Regions from separate parts of the Homo sapiens genome. Here region 2 is linked to region 1. A link means that fine-mapping ties the variant in region 1 to the plasma level of a protein whose gene starts in the linked region. Region 1 holds a variant in brackets. A gene starts in the other region. All regions are shown on their reverse strands.

The links. PIP is the chance, under the fine-mapping model, that this variant and not a neighbour inherited with it causes the effect. Protein levels are from antibody-based Olink assays in UK Biobank. Linkage for the fine-mapping came from a reference panel and not from the study's own genotypes, which makes the PIPs less certain.
Region 2: it holds the start of PGLYRP2, and the variant in region 1 is fine-mapped to the plasma level of the PGLYRP2 protein (UK Biobank, PIP above 0.99).

The regions. Positions count from the first base shown.
Region 1 is chr4:3,447,833-3,453,198 of GRCh38, reverse strand. HGFAC (HGF activator) reads right to left here. Exons shown (of 14, transcript NM_001528.4): 12 at 5,164-5,304; 13 at 4,923-5,071; 14 at 3,713-3,962. The coding sequence ends at 3,780. Among named protein-coding and RNA genes, the nearest start is that of HGFAC, 8.5 kb to the right of the region's middle. RefSeq lists an enhancer at 3,341-4,144. The variant C/T (reference allele first, on the strand shown) is at 2,581.
Region 2 is chr19:15,477,353-15,482,718 of GRCh38, reverse strand. PGLYRP2 (peptidoglycan recognition protein 2) reads left to right here and starts at 3,218. Exons shown (of 5, transcript NM_052890.4): 1 at 3,218-3,408. The coding sequence starts at 3,348.

The DNA.
Region 1 (5,366 bases):
GAAGAACTTATTTTATGAGGCTGGGATAGCCTTGATAACAGTCATTCAGAGAATATAGGAAAGGAAAATTATAGGCCAATCTCATAAACATACATGCAAAATCCTAAATAAAATATAAATTTTAAAAAGTTTTTAAAAACCAATACAGCATGTATCAGTCAGGGTCCCAATAGGCGGGCACACACAGTGGAACAGTTCAAGGAGGGTTTTTATATACAAAGTTGTGGTCAAAATGTGGACAATCACAGTCAGAAACTCCAGAGCCCAGGGCTGGTTAAGGTGGAGGGGCCACACCAGTTCTAGAATGCTGGCAATGGCAGGAGTGGACCCCGGAGCCTCAGAAGGAGAAAGTCTTTTACATCTTGAGAGCAGCGCTGACCTTCAGTCCCAGGATGCAGCCAACCTGAGGGTATTTGTTTGCTACGGGGACCATAATAAACTGCCACAGATTGGGTGCCTTCGACAAGAGAAGCTTATCACCTTGCAGTTCTGGAAGCCAGAAGTCCAAAACCCAGGGGGCAGCAGGCTTGGCTCCCTTGGAGTCCAGCAGGGGGCACCTGCTCTAGGCCTCTGGCCCTGGTTTGTGGACGGCCATCTTCTCTCCAGGTGTCTCCCATCGCCCTCCTACTGTACATGTCTGCGTCCTGTAAAAAGAAGCCATTCAAAACCAAAGTTGTTGGAACTTTAAATTATTTTGCATCTTCAAGGAACATGATTATAGGACCTGAGTTGCGTATGACGGTCAGCTGTAGCTTAGGCAGCTGTAACCTTTGTTCCTCTGATTATAGATTAGCTTTTTCTTTACCTACATTGTTCTGTAAAATGTTATAAAAGACTACAGGACACCAGGGAAGACCCCTTCCCTCTTCATGTTGATCTTCACTGTAGATTTGCTCCCCTCTGACTTCTCTTACACAGAGACCTCACTGGCCACCACGTTGTCTAAGACAGAACGTTCAATAGGCTCTTTCAAATTGGAAAAGGAAAAGAAAACAAGCTGTGATTAATCAAATTGCTGTGACTCATAAACCAGCCTTGCATGGGAAGCACTGTAACCCTGTTCAATTTGTTTATTTTCTGCCTGTATAAGCAAGACCTTCACTTTTTGGCTTTGGGGTACTGGCTCTAATCCTCTGGAGTCTGTGTGTCCTGAGTGGCTATTTTCAGCTTCGTGCCTGCATATGCTCTTTTAAACTGGATTCTGATCCTTTTGATTATTTCAGGTGGATAGTCCAAATTTTCTCTTCTCATTAGGACACCAGTCATATTGAGTTAGTGCCCATCCTAATAACCTAATTTGAACTTGATTGCCTTTTTAAACATTCTATCTCCAAATACAGTCACATGCTGGGCTATTAGGGGTTAGGACTTCAACATATGAATTAATTAATTTATTAAAACAGGATCCTGCTCTGTACCCAGGCTGGAGTGCAGTGGCGTGATCATGGCTCACTGCAACCTCCACCTCCTGGTGGAGGTGATCCTTCCCCTTCAGCCTCCTGAGTAGCTGAGACTACAGGTGCATGCCACCATGCCCGGCTAATTTTTTTGTAGAGACTGGGTTTCATCCTGTTGCCCAGGCTGGTCTTGAATTCCCACCTGGGCCTCCCAAAGTGCTGGGATGACAGGTGTGAGCCACTGCGCCCAGTCATCATATGAATTCTAGAAGGACATAATTCCACCTGAAACACTGAGGTGACTGACCCCAAAGAAAGGGAGCCAGGAAAATACATGCCCAGTCTCTCTCCCCTGCCTCTGATCTCCCAATAGCCCAACAAGAAACAAGAGAGTGCACAGCCCATTGCAGACCAGAGAGGCCAGCCTCCCGCGGCAGAGCACGACGGGAACAAGCAGGGCACAAGTGGGAGGGGCAAAGGGAAGACCCCAGCTCACACTTCAGCTCAATACCGTCCACTCGAGGAATACAAGGCCAACCTGAGTTAGAAAACCTATCATGTGCCGGGCGCAGTGACTCACGCCTGTAATCCCAGCACTTTGGGTGGCCGAGTTGGGCGGATCATTTGAAGTCAGGAGTTCAAGACCAGCCTGGGCAACGTGGTGAAACCCCATCTCTACTAAAAATACAAAAATTAGCCGGGCGTGGTGGCAGGCACCTGTAATCCCAGCTACTCGGGAGGATGAGGCAGAAGAATCACTTGAGCCTGGGAGGCAGAGGTTGTGGTAAGCCAAGATCGCGCCACTGCACTCCAGGCTGGGTGGCAGAGTGAGACCCTGTCTCAGAAAGAAAGAAAAAAAATGAAGAAAAGAAAGAAAGAGAGAGAGAGAGAGAAAGAAGAAAGAAAGAAGAAGAAAAAAGAAAAAAGAGAGAAAAAGAGAGAGAGAAAGAAGAAGAAAGGAAGGAAGAAAAGGAAGGAAAGAAGGAAGAAGGGAGGGAGGAAGGAAGGAAGAAGGGAGGGAGGGAGGGAGGGAGGAAGGAAACCTATCATGGAAGTCATCATGTTAGTGAAGCCAAAGGGAAAATGTGTACATTTATCTCAACAGAGGCTGAGGAAGCATGTGAAAATGCTCACCGCTCATGGCGGAAGGGTCAGGGACGGCTCACATCGGATGTGGGTGAAG[C/T]GGGGCTGAAGCCATGAGGTTCAGAGCCCCAGAACCAGCTGCTGGAGGCCCCCACACTCAGGAGGAAGAGCGGCTCCACTCTCAGGATCCTGGGGCACAGGTGCCAGACTCAGTCCCCCAGCCACTGCCCAGGCTGCACCAACACTGTGGCAGGGGCAGGGGTCTTCAGTGGCAAGTTCGTTCCGTGAGCTCGAAGGCTCTGAGGCCCATGCACAGCAGCAGGGGCCGTGGGGAGAAGGGCCTGGCCATGTCTCTCTTCCCTCTTTGCTCAGAACCCGGCTTTGCTTGGGGCGGTAACTGTGTGGCCCCAATGCCCCATTTCCTGCCCTCCCAGCCTCCGTACAGCCTGGGGCGGCGCCAATCTGCTGGGGAAGGGGCTCCCGACGAAAGGGAACAGCTGTAACTGCAAACCACTGCCTCCCCGAGACCAGGACGCCAGGAAGGAGGTGGGGCGCAGGAGAGAAGGTCCTGGGTGCCTCGAAGCAGGGAGGAGGCCTGACCCCCACCAGCCACACTCCCGCCCTCTCTGCCCTCTGGCCCCACCTCCCCCTGTCTCCTGTCCTCCCTGGCTGGAGGGAGGGTACGGCCTCTGCCTGCCCAGCAGTGACCCTCTAACTGGGCCCCATCTAGCACATGGGCCCCTCCCTCCCTCAGCCCCCACAGAGGCAGCCTGTGGCCTCCTCCCTCCCGGGAAGTGCAGCCCAGGCTCAGGCAGGCGGGCTGCCATCTGGAAGACCAACGACGGCCTGCGGGTGTTCCCGTGGGGCCGCTCTTTCTTCTTCAGGTTCAATACTCCGTGCACCACGCGGATCGGACCCCTCCACGCCTGGGGGCCTGGACTTGGTTTCCACTTCCTGCCCTGGGACAACCCAGGTGCTGAGCCCCGGCCTGGGGCTGGCCTGGGAGGGGGCTGGACTCTGCTGGGGCCTGGAGAGGCCCAGACCTCATCCCCTGACAACTCTCTGGGCCGTGGGGCCAGACCCCGCTGTGGGGCCACAGGCTCCGTCTCCACTGAGGACTGTGTGCGCTCCAGAACGGCAGCCTGAGGCCTGCTGCGCATAGACCTGGGCCCCAGTCATGGCCTGGAGGGGAAGGCGGGGCCGCAGGCAGGGGCCAGGCAGCGTGGGCCGGGTTCTTGGAAATATCTTTATTGTCAGCAAGGCAGGGAATGGTGGGAACCAGGGTGTCCCGCTGGAGGGTCAGGAGGGAGCCACAAGCCGCCTGGGAGGCCGTATCCGGTCGTTGATCCAGTCCACATAGTTGGCCACGCGGGTGTAGACCCCCGGCTTGTGGAGCCGCCCGCAGCCGTCACCCCAGCTGATGATGCCGTAGAGGTAAGCCACGCCGTTCTTCTCGCAGGCCAGGGGCCCCCCTGAGTCCCCCTGGGCAGAGACGTTGGTCAGAGCCACCCTCCCAGGGGCCTGGTTCAGGGACCCCCCTCTCCCCCAAGTGGCAGCTTGGGGACAGAGGACAAAGGCATTTCTGAGCAAGGGAGCTGATCCACTCTCCTGAACCTCATGAAAAGGTGTCTCATTCCCTGGGGGCAGCACTGGCTGGGCCAGGGCATCCAACCACGTTATTCCCCTTCCTGAAGCCACGGTCCCCCTCTCCCCACCAGCATGAACCCTGTGTGGACCACACAGCCACCCTGTGTCCCAGCACCTCCTGAAATGACTTCTTCACTCCCTGGAAAACTCCTACGCATCACTCAGGACCAGTGCAAACACTCCCTCCTCCAGGAAACCATCCTGACTTCCCTTATCGAGGTCCAGTGACAAGCCCTACCCACTCTACCACTCCTGGGCTTTGTGGCCTTGGAAGAGTGAATTGACTGCCTGGGGCTCAGTCTCCCCAGCTATAAAATGGGGCATAAGAGAGCCGTCGCATGCCAGGGTTGCCGTGCCGCCTGAGCACACAGGCCTGCAGAGCCCAGGACGTGGTTGGGCTGTTGGGCTTATTGAAGGTTGAAGAACTTATTGAAGGTTGAAGAGCTGGCTTGAGAGAACTCGGGGCAAAGGGGCCTTTGGTGCCTAGTGTCACACGGAAAGCACTGCCTTGGGCTGGACAGCCAGGAACTGTCCGGGCTCTGTGGGACCCCAGGCCCCTCTCAGAGCCTGGGTCTCCCCTTCTGTGTGAGGAGGATGCCCTTCCGGCAGGGCTCTGGGTGGCCCTGGGGTGCTGGCCACCGACAGTAAGTGTGCTCCCTGCCCAGGGGTCCCTGGCTGGCCCTGCCAGGTTGGGGTGCCGCCAGGCTCTGGGCTCCCCAGGGGCAAGCATCTCGGAGACTCAGGACCAGCTGAGCCCCCACCAGTCGGGTCCTGGTGGGGCGGGCACCAGCTCACCTGGCAGGCGTCGGACTTGCAGTCGAAGTAGCCGGCACAGAGCATGTTGGGGCTGATGTCGGCGCCGTAGACCTCAGGGCTGCTGCACTTGTGGTCGGCGACCAGGGGGACCAGGGCCTCCCGCAGGGAGCTGGAGTAGCCGCTCACGTCTGTGGGACACAATGCCCTCAGCGTGACACCCACACTGTGGCTGGCCACTGTCCACCCTGGCGGGGCGCTGGGCGCCCCCCTCCCAACTCACTCTCATCCAAGTGGCCCCAGCCCGCAATCTGGCACTTGTGTCCTGCGGGGAAGGTGCTGCCGGGCTCGGGCAGGCAGATGGGCTGCACGAACTGCGAGCGTGTGGCACAGCGGTCCCCTTTCTTCTTCAGCCGGATCAGGACTGATCAGAAGAGTGGCCAGGGTCAGCCTGTGGTGTGCGGGCTGAACGGGAGGCTGTCGGGG
Region 2 (5,366 bases), not on the chromosome of region 1:
GACTCTGCCAGAAAGAAAGAGAAAAAGAGAAAGAAAGAGAAGAAAGAGAAAGAAAGAAAGAAAGAAAGAAAGAAAGAAAGAAAGAAAGAAAGAAAGAAAGAAAGAAGGAAGGAAGGAAGGAAGGAAGGAAGGAAGGAAGGAAGGAAGGAAGGAAGAAAGAAAGAAAGAAAGAAAGAAAGGAAGAAAGAAAGAAAGAAAAAAGAAAGAAAGGAGGGAGGGAGGAAGGGGGGAGGGAGGGAAGGAAGGAAGGAAGGAGAAGGGAAGAAAGGAGAAGGAAGAGAAGGAAGAAAATATGGAAGAGGAAGTATATTTACTATTCATTAAGTAGAGAATCATCATAAAGGTCTTCATCCTCACCGTCTTCATGTTGAGTAGGCTGAGGAGGAGGAAGAGGAGGGGTCTTGCTGTCTCAGGGGTGGCAGAGGTGGAAGAGGAGGAAGGGGAGAGGAGAGGCAGGCACAGTCCATGTAATTTTTATTGAAACAAATCCAGATATAAGTTGACCCTCACAGGTCAAACCCATGTTGTTCAAGGGTCAACTGTACTCCGTATGACACTCTAGTGGTGGACATATGTCATTATACATTTGTCCAAACCCATAGAATGTACACCACCAAGAGCAAACCCTAATGGAAATGATGAACTTTGGGTGATAATGATGTGTCAGTGAAGGTTCATCGATTGTAACAGATATACCATTCTGGTGCTGGATAGTGATAATACGAGAGTCTGTGCATGTGTCAAGGCAGGGAGTAGAACTCTCTGTAACTTCTGCTCAATTTTGTCACGAACCTAAAACTGCTCTAGGCCAGGCATGGTGGCTCACGCCTGTAATCCCAGCACTTTGGGAAGCTAAGGCAGGAGGATCCCTTGAGTCCAGGAGATGAGACCAGCCTGGCCAACATAGCGAGACCCTCATCTCTATAAAAAATTAAAAATAGAGGCCGATGCGGGTGGATCACCTGAGGTCAGGAGTTCAAGACCAGCCTGGCCAACATGGTGAAACTACATCTGTACTAAAAGTACAAAAATCAGCCGGGAGTGGTGACGGGGACCTGTAATCCCAGCTACTCGGGAGGCTGAGGCAGGAGAATAGCTTGAACCTGGGAGGCAGAGGCTGCAGTGAGCCAAGATTGTGCCACTACACTGCAGCCTAGGCAACAGAGCGAGACTCTGTCTCAAAAAAAAAAAAAAAAAAAAAAAAAGCCTGTAATCCCAGCACTTTGAGAGGCCAAGACAGGTGGATCACCCGAGGTTGGGAGTTTGAGACCAGCCTGGCCAACATGCTGAAATCCCGTCTCTACTAAAAATACAAAAATTAACTGGAAGTGGTGGACGGGCACCTGTAATCTCAGCTCCTTGGGAGGCTGAGGCAGGAGAATCACTTGAACCTGGGAAGCAGGGCTGCAGTAAGCCAAGATTGCACCACTACACTCCAGCCTGGGTGACAGAGGGAGACCCTGCCTCAAAAAATAATAATAATAAAATAAAAAATAAAGCTGGGTGCAGTGGCTCACGCCTGTAATCCTAGCATTTCGGGAGGCCGAGGCAGGAGGATTGCTTGAGGCCAAGAGTTTAAGACCAACCTGGCCAGCATATCAAGACTCCATCTTTAAAAATAATAATAATAATAAAACTGTTCTAAAAAAGTCTTAAAATTATTTATCGGCCGGGCATGGTGGCTCACGCTTGTAATCCCAGCAATTTGGTAGGCCAAGTTGGGTGGATCACCTGAGTCAGGGGTTCAAGACCAGCCTGGCCTACGTGGCAAAACCCCGTCTCTACTAAAAATACAAAAATTAGCCAGGCATGGTGGCGCATGCCTGTAACCTGAGCTACTTGGTAGGCTGAGGCAGGGAGGCAGGAGAATTGCTTGAATCTGGGAGGTGGAGGTTGTAGTGAGCTGAGATCGTGCCATTGCACTCCAGCCTGGGTGACAGAGCGAGACTCCGTCTCAAAAAAAAAAAAAGTTATTGATGACTTAGATTTTCAACACTGCCTTAAATTTTGCGGCAAAGAGGATGCCTCAACCTAGTCCCTGCCTCAGCCCACAACCTTCATATGGTTCTACCAGGCAAAGCTCCTATCCCCAAATCCTGGGAAACGAGCTTGGAGGAGGACATTGTCTCTTACTCCCATGGGAAGTGTCCCCCATTCACTCTATCACTTAGCACCCTACATCCTGAGCTTCCACTATGTGCCCAGCTTTTTTCTGGGAGGTCCCCAGAAAGAGGACACCTGAGGAGGCCCCAGGGGTGGCCCCCAGGGGAATCCCAGGCCTGGCTCAGGCTGGACATTCCCAGGCCTGCCCTGGCTGAGTCTCCAGCTGGTGGGTCTCCTGGAAACTCCCCGGGCTGGTTTTGAGGTGGGAGCCCCACAGGGAAGCAATTTACATACACAACAGCCCAGTCATGTCAACCTGCCCCATCTGATGCCAGAATAAAGGGGAGATGGGTCCATTCTGCAGGTCTCAGTCATGGGCACCCGGAGAAGAGGAAGGACATTTCACTGTCAGCCCAGGTGAGTCCAGAAGCCAGCTCCTGGAACAATGCCAGGGTCCTGAACACTCAAGCTCAACCCCTGCTCTCAGCTACTGCTGGTGGCTTGAAATCAAGGGCTGGAACTGGATGAGAGGTGACAGCCCCTGGTCCCCATGGGCTCAGAGCAGGCCTCAGCAAACACTGTCCTCGGCCCCTGCACCCATGCTCTGCCTGAGCCTGAAGTGTTGGTTGCAAAAAAAAGCAGGAGGCAGTGCCAACTTCAGGCCTCAGCAAACACTGTCCTCAGCCCCCGCACCGATGCTGTGCCTGAGCCTGAAGTGTTGGTTGCAAAAAAAAGCAGAAGGCAGTGCCAACTTCAGGCCTCTGCTTCTCTCCTCTCCCTCAACACAGCCGGTCTTACCAGTACAGCAGGCGGCAGCTGAGAGTCCCCTCTGGTGGCCAGCAGCGGCTACAGAGCCGTCACTATGGGGAGGGACAGGACTTGAGGGGTTGCCTCGGTCCACCTCACTGGAGAATGGGCAGAGTTTATGGAGTCTGAACCACCTGGTCTCCAGGCCCCTCTGGGGATGGGCCTGGCTTACTGACCACTGACCTCAGCCTAGGAGGGACAGAAGAGACTGGGGGAGACCAGGATGCCCAGATGACCTTGACCCAGGGTACGCTGCCCCATGTCCCTGCTGCCTCCCGCCCACAGCTCTACGAGAGGCAGGTCTGTCATTCGCCGCTGGACTTTGACAGTGGTCAAAGGCTCTGCTCAGTTCTCTGTGCCTGTCTCCCTCCAGCACTGCCGAGGTTCTCTGCCGAGGCCAACCAGAAATACCCCTTGGAAGCTGGAATCCTGCAACAATGGCCCAGGGTGTCCTCTGGATCCTACTCGGATTGCTACTGTGGTCAGACCCAGGGACAGGTGAGTCAGGGGGCAGAGTCCTGGGACCAAACCTCTTGGCTCTGCAGAAGGCGTACTGCTGTCCCATCTATGTCTTGCCCTGCATGGAGTGAGGCTGGAGACTCAAGCTCTCAAAGAAGCTCCAGCATGGGGACATAGATATTCCCAGCTCCACAGAGTCAAGGCAAGGATAAGGGAAGGAATCTGGGGCCTGGAGAGCAAAAGTAGGGAAGGCTTCTTGGAGGAGGAGACATAAGAGCTAGGCTAGGAAGAAAGAGAAATGATTTGGGGGAGAAGCCAGAAAGGGCATTTTTTGCAGAGAAGAGCAAAGCTACACAGGTTAGGTGGTGGACTGGAGAAGAACCTAGATTCTAGACCAGGAGAGTGTGTCGAGTAAGACTTCCTGGATTCAAATTCTACTACTGGCCAGGCCTGTAATCCCAGCACTTTGGGAGATCAAGGCGGGCAGATCACTTGAGATCAGGAGATCGAGACCAGCCTGGCCAACATGGTGAAACCCCATCTCTACTAAAAATACCAAAAATTAGCCAGGCGTGGTGGCAGGCACCTGTAATCCCAGCTACCCAGGAGGCTGAGGCCAGAAAATTGCTTGAACTCAGGAGGTTGCAGTGAGCTGAGCACTACTGCACTCCAGCCTGGATGATAGAGCAAGACTCCGTCTCAAAAAAAAAAAAAAAAAACAAAGGCAAATCCTGCCTCTGCCACTTCCTTCCTGTGTGACCTTAGGCAGGTAACTTAACCTCTCTGTGCTTCAGATGCCTCATCTGTAAAGGGACACCATCTTAGTCCCTTTGTGCTTCTATATAGGCCAGGGTACCTGAAACTGAGTAAATTTGTAAAGAAGAGAAATTTACTTTCTTGCAGTTCTGCAGGCTAGGAAGTCCCAAATGCCAGTGCTTTGATCTTGGACTTCCCAGCCTCTAGAACTATGAGAAATAAATGTCTGTTCTTTTTTTTTGTTTTTTAGACAGAGTCTGACTCTGTCGCCCAGGCTGGAGTGCAGCAGCATGATCTCAGCTCACTGCAACCTCCACCTCCCGGGTTCAACAGATCCTCCTGCCTCAGCCCCCCAAGTAGCTGGGATTACAGGTGCCCGCCACCGCACCCGGCTAACTTTTGTATTTTTAGTAGAAACGGGGTTTCACCATGTTGGCCAGGCTGGTCTCAAACTCCTGACCTCAAGTGATCCGCCTGCCTCGGCCTCCCAAAGTGCTGGGATTACAGGCATGTGCCAGCACACCTGGCCAAATTTCTGTTTTTCATAAATTACCCAACCTCAGAGATCTGTTATAGCAGCACCAATGTACTAAGACAGGGGCTAAAAGGACCTACCTCACAAGAGTTGTGAAGACTAACTGCGTTAAATTATTAATATATAAGTCACCTAGACTAGTAGCTAGCACATAGTAAATGTTTACTGAAAGTTAGCTATTATTTGATAACCCATCTCTGAACCAGCTCTGAGCCTAACTTAGCATTTCTAGGTTTGCAGTTCAGCCACTGACATTTCCCCAACATGGCACAAGCCCATCCTGCTCTTCCCCCTGCCTCCCAGGCTATTTTATTTTATTTTATTTTATTTTAATTTAATTTTATTTTATTTATTTTATTTTATGATGGAGTCTCACTCTGTCACCCAGGCTGGAATGCAGTGGGGGGTTCTTGGCTCACTGCAACCTCCACCTCCTGGGTTCAAGCAGTTCTCCTGCCTCAGCCTCCTGAGTAGCTGGGGTTACAGGTGTGTGCCACCATGCCCAGCTAATTTTTGTATTTTTAGTAGTGACGGAGTCTCGCCATGTTGATCCGGCTGGTCCTGAGCTCCCGACCTCAGGTGATCCACCCGCCTCTGCCTCCTAAAGTGCTGGGATTACAGGCGTGAGCCACTGCGTCTGGCATTTTTTTTTTTTTTTTTTTTTTTGAGACAAAGTCTCACTCTGTCACCCAGGCTGGAGTGCAGT